Regions from separate parts of the Homo sapiens genome. Here region 2 is linked to region 1. The links come from fine-mapping of genetic effects on gene expression. Tissue or cell type: left ventricle. Region 1 holds a variant in brackets; the other region holds the start of a gene. All regions are shown on one strand. Distances are between the middles of the regions.

What was found. PIP is the estimated chance that this variant, and not a neighbour inherited with it, causes the effect.
Region 2: it holds the start of ABCB4, and the variant in region 1 is fine-mapped to the expression of ABCB4 in left ventricle (GTEx, PIP 0.96). The same link has a PIP of 0.9 or more in atrial appendage and testis.

The regions. Positions count from the first base shown.
Region 1 is chr7:87,447,319-87,450,073 of GRCh38, reverse strand. It overlaps ABCB4 (ATP binding cassette subfamily B member 4), which reads left to right. Exons shown (of 28, transcript NM_000443.4): 8 at 1-106. Among named protein-coding and RNA genes, the nearest start is that of ABCB4, 27 kb to the left of the region's middle. The variant T/C (reference allele first, on the strand shown) is at 1,394.
Region 2 is chr7:87,474,281-87,477,041 of GRCh38, reverse strand. ABCB4 (ATP binding cassette subfamily B member 4) reads left to right here and starts at 1,362. Exons shown (of 28, transcript NM_000443.4): 1 at 1,362-1,408; 2 at 1,571-1,656. The coding sequence starts at 1,577. RefSeq lists silencers at 986-1,235, 1,286-1,485, 1,496-1,635 and an enhancer at 2,106-2,175.

The DNA.
Region 1 (2,755 bases):
ACAAAGAACTAGCTGCTTATGCAAAAGCAGGCGCCGTGGCAGAAGAGGCTCTGGGGGCCATCAGGACTGTGATAGCTTTCGGGGGCCAGAACAAAGAGCTGGAAAGGTCAGGAAGGTTCTTTAGCCACTGGTTTAAGGAATGTGTTTTTACATTTTGTTGCTTCTTCTTTGTGGTATGTGTTTTTTACCTTCCCTTTCCTAATATTAACCCTTCTCGCATAAATTATAAGCACCCTTTACTGATGGCTATAGTTGAATGTCAGACTCTAAAGCAAGATTCTTAATCATTTATGTTCCATGGACTCTTTTGGCTATGTGATAATACAAATGGACTCCCTTGTTTTTAAATGCATAAACCAAAATATGCTAGCCCTTTGGGAAGCCAAGGCAGGAGGGTAGCTGGAATCCAGGAGCTCAAGACCAGCCTGGGCAATGTAGTAAGACCCTGGCTCTACAATTTTTTTTTTTTTTAATAAGCTGAGTGTGGTGGTGTGCACCTGTGGTCCCAGCTACTCAGGAGGCTGAGGCAGGAGAATCCCTTGAGCCCAGAATGTCAAGGGTGCAGTGAGCTGAACTCCAGCCTGGATGATAGAGTGAGCCTCTATCACAAAAAAAGAGTAAAAATTTTTTAAAAACCAAAAAATAAATAAATAAAAGCCCCAAAAAACAAAATAAGTAGGGTTACAAAGGAAAATAATTATATTAAAAATACTTATCAAAATATTTTTTATTTTATTTTACTCCTTAATGACTATGAACTGGAATATAGAAGAGAAAAACCTGAGAAAACATCGACTTCCTAGTTATAGCCCAGAATTCTTTGTAGGGCCTTGTGGGTCCTCCATAACAATGAGGCAGGGCTTCCCACCCAGGCCTCTGGCATTCAACTTTAATGATCCAGGATAAGCCTGGAAAATTGACCAGTATCTGGAGGCATGTTGCAAACTCTTCTCTGAAAAAATTATCAAGGCATGATTGACATATGAAAAGCTGTGTATACATCTTTAGTGTGTATATCTCAATGAGTTTGGGGATAAGAATACACCTATGAAAAAGGCTATTCTGCTCTACTTAAATGAAAATAATTACTTAGGGTTTTATTTAAATAACAATATCCCCTACTGTAGTTGAAGTATGATTCCATATAAAGTATTTTCTTTGGCTATTCTATGGGACTCTTGATACTCACAACTCTTGGATATAAAAATTCTCTGGAAATTCTCTAGCATTAAAAACAAAGTTTCCCTTATTCCCCCCATTTAATTTTCTACTTTTCTATTCCTTAATCCCTCTTCAAAGCCAACATGTTTCTGATCCTCTAACCTCTTCCTTTTTTCTCTCTCACTGCTGCTTCCTGTACATAATAGTCCACACAGACCACACTAACCCTCAG[T/C]TGGACCTCAGGATGTCAGTGTAATCTGTGCCGCTCCATTAGCCCCGGTAAGCGAGCCACCTAAGCAAAGGTAATTACAGTGTGTCCGCTGCTGTCACTGGAGCTGTGTGTCACACTGGGCAGATGCAAGTCTTCCTGCCACGCCTTGAGGCTCAGCCACACAGGAGAAATCACAGCGCTAGCTGTGGCCTGCTGGCTACCCCCAGAGATGCAGCTGTGCTCTATGAATGCAGCCCCCAACCAGAGGAAAGCACCCTGAAGACCTGGGTGCTTTACGCAATAAAAAAGACAAACCTTCTGATGGCAGAATATGTTTTTTAAAAGACTAATGAATTCTCATGTTTTATTTGGTTCAACACTAAAACTGGTGTTGCTGTGTTTTGTTTTTTGTTTTTTTTTGTCACAAAGAAAAATATCCTAGTTTGTGTGATATTTTCCCCTCGAAGTGTCATTGCATACCCATTGGATTTTTCTTTAAATTTCAGGGAGCCCAAATTAAATTTTACATACCCTCTGGGTCTAGTATGAAAAAGTAGATTTGATTTAACTTGATGAAAAAAAATTGTAATTTAACAGAATCATTCTAGATATTTTAAACTTTATATCAAATGCCAGCAGCCAGTAATAATGCATTTGAATTATGATTCAAAGATATGATAGTAATAGAATGAGCAAAACTCAGGAAGAGATAAAAGTTGAACACAATGATACTAATATAATAGTAAGAGAAATGATCAGGCTTGCTAACTATGAACCAGCTACTGTACTACTTTCTACAATTATCTACCAACCTCACAATTATCTTGCAAATTAGGCATTATTAAATCCATTTTTCATATATGAAACTAAAGTCTGGAAAAATTGAATAAGAACTCATATTCCATAAGTAGTGACTACCTTATAACCTGTATCTAGCTTGACAGATGAAGGTCAGCCTGATTTTTAAAAAAGTCAAAGAGAGAAGCCTATGTTTATGTACAACAACATGTAAAATTTTCATCCCTCACCCAGTGGACAATAGAGGGACGATTTTCTTTTCTCCAGAGAAGAGACATTGACCAGAGTTAAGAATCTAACTGTTTATGAGTTCCAGTGACATTTACAATCAATTCTGGTTTGGCTTGGTTTCTCTCATTCCCTCTTAACCCTGACTTGTGATATTGCCGTGAAGGTGATGGAGAAGCTCTTCCATATCCCAGGGTGAGCCCTCAATTCTGGAATAACCACAGGAATGTTGGTTGGCTTGGAATGGATGAAGGGAAATGGAACCGGGCCAGTAAAGAGAAGGCTTGGATCTGTTCTAGGCCTGGCTGATCCTGAATTAGTTCAATTCCCAAAGATCTGGGTCTCACCATGGGTTCA
Region 2 (2,761 bases), 27 kb before region 1:
TGAGTCAAGAATTACATAACCTGGCCAGACAGCTGGTACATGGGAAAGGTGAGATTCACACCAGGGTCCACCCAGCATCTCTACTTATACCATGCTCTGCTTTAAGGTTCTCTGAGAACTCAGACAAGCCTTGGGCTAACAATTGTGTTAACAGGACATAGCAGGTGCAAGGACCCACTGGTCATCCTGCTACCTGATCAGAAGGAAGGAAAGTTGTATTTGTTGCTCACCTACTATGTTTTAGGCATAGTACTAGGTGCTTTTACCTAGTACTTAATTCCCTTATCCTCAACTCATTTATTCCTCGCAATAACCTGATAAGGGAGATGTTTTTATCCTCATTTTACATATAAGGAAACAGGCCTAGAGAAATGAGCACAGTGTCCAAAGTCACATAGTTAATAAGATGTGAAGCTCTGAGTTTGAAAGTCTCCGGTTTCAAAGCCATGAAACTTATGGCTCCCCGTTTTAGACACTTCCTTTTGGGAAGAGTGTGGAGGAATTAATCAGAAAGAAGAAAGTCATACTCAAATAGGTGGTAGGAGCAGAGACAATTCAATACAGACAGAAGTCTTAGATGAGAGCAGTGAGCCAGGGCACTGGACTGGGACTCAGGAGGCTTCCCCTAGACTCTGGTTCCACCGATGCAGCCTCAGGCAGGACTTCACCTCTCTGGGCATCCGTTTCTTCATATGTTAAACATACGGGGTTTTAATTAGATGATCGCTGAAGACCCCTCTAGCCCTAAAACTCTGTGTCTCTTAAGTGCTAAGAGGGCACCAACAGCGTTCCTCCTCCCCAAGGAGCATAATGTGATGGTTCCTGCCGGCCCTGGCTGACTCTCGCCGTCCTTGGAGATAATTGGGTTCAGTGCCACCTGGACCAGAACTGGGGATGCGGAAGCAAGAGGCGAGTCTATTGCTCTCTCTCGGTCCTGGGCCGCCCTGTGATTGTTGGGCGTCCGGAAACTGTCTCCCCTATGGGTTTAAAAACAAAACTGAGCGCCCATGGGGTGTGACAGTCATCTGCAGGGGCTTGGGTGGCCCATCAGGCGAGGCTTTCTCGGCACCCGAGGCTCCAGCCTGATCTCGGTCTTATCCTGCGACCGGGCTGGTTCTGGCGGGTCGCCAGGGTGGGCGGCGGCCCCAGCCGGGCGCCCCGGCGGCAAGAGCGGCAGGCTGCGCCCCTGGCCCGCGCCTAGCCTGGGGAGAGAGCTGGGCGGGCGGCGGGAGCTGCTCTCGCGGGCCGCGGCCCTCGCCCTGGCTGCAACGGTAGGCGTTTCCCGGGCCGGACGCGCGTGGGGGGCGGGGGCGGGGGCGGGGGCGAGGCCGCGGCGAGCAAAGTCCAGGCCCCTCTGCTGCAGCGCCCGCGCGTCCAGAGGCCCTGCCAGACACGCGCGAGGTTCGAGGTGAGAGAGGTCCGGGCGCGTCTGGCCTCGAAGGGAGACCCGGGACGTGGGGCGCGGGGCGGGAGTGGCCGGACCTCCACCCAGTGCCCCCGGGCCCCGCGACTCGTGCGCCGGGCCGCCGGAGAGGGTGTACTTGGTTCTGAGGCTGTGGTTTCTCCTCAGGCTGAGATGGATCTTGAGGCGGCAAAGAACGGAACAGCCTGGCGCCCCACGAGCGCGGAGGGCGACTTTGAACTGGGCATCAGCAGGTACATCCCCAGCAGCCACTGGCTTTTCCGTTACACGCCAATCAGCAGGACTAAGTTCACCCTTGGAAAGAAGTTGTAAAAATCGGTTGATGCCTTTGAAGACCTTTGTTTTGGAGGCTTCTTTGAAGGGTCTTGCATCCGGTTCTGACCTTGGAGCAAACGTGTTGTGTGGCCTCAAAGAATGTCACTGAGGCTCCTTTTGGAACAGATTCAGGAAGAAAAGGCTGTCTTGAAAAGTGCTCCCTTCCCTTTGTGCAGGGGGGATTCAATGAATATCTGCATTGTATAACATTCATTGTATTACGTAACTCTTGAAACTTTTACAAATGACTTTCATATACATCATCTGATTGTTCAGACTTAAAGGGTGTCAGACATCTGCTGTTGATGGCTGTGCTTTTTGAACAAGGGCAGTGAAGCAAAAACTCCCTCCCCTCCTGCCCATCCCCTGTTATGTCTCTTCCTCCTTGTCTTACCCCTCCCCCTCCTCTCATCGCCAGGCTTATTTGTATTTCTCCTTTCTGGGAGGATAGGTGGGGAGGGGGAACTTCTGTACATCCGAATCAGTTTTGTTCAAGTGGTAGGGGGAAGCAGCGCTTCCTTTGCCTTCATGTCTTTCTCGGTTCCCCTGGCCCTTGTTAAACTCACTTCACAGGCTTTATGAGCGGGGCAGAAGTTCCCAGTCAATGGCGTGTGTCTTTGTTTCCTCTTTCACTGTGGGAATAGTGAATCATTTTCGCCTTTAGCCTGAAATAGTTTATGAGGCTATTACGGTCTCTGAGTTCATACCAGGCTACCCAGAAAAAATTGACCTGTGTCAAGTGATCACCCAGAGGGACAAATTTATCAGTCTCTGTAGTTTGTCCTCAAGCTGCTAGGGGCTTGATTAGCTAACTGAAAACATGCCTACCTGATGCTTAAACTGAAGCATTATTTTAGCCTGTTAATGTGGTTGTGCAGTAACCTTGCTGTATTTCTTCTAAGCACCATTGTATTTTTTCATAGAAAATTTAGTTTTGCCATGTAGAATTGAAAAAGTGATAGATGGTGTTACTTCCAATGGAAGTACTTACACACGCAATAGAAAAATATGGTTTTCATCAGC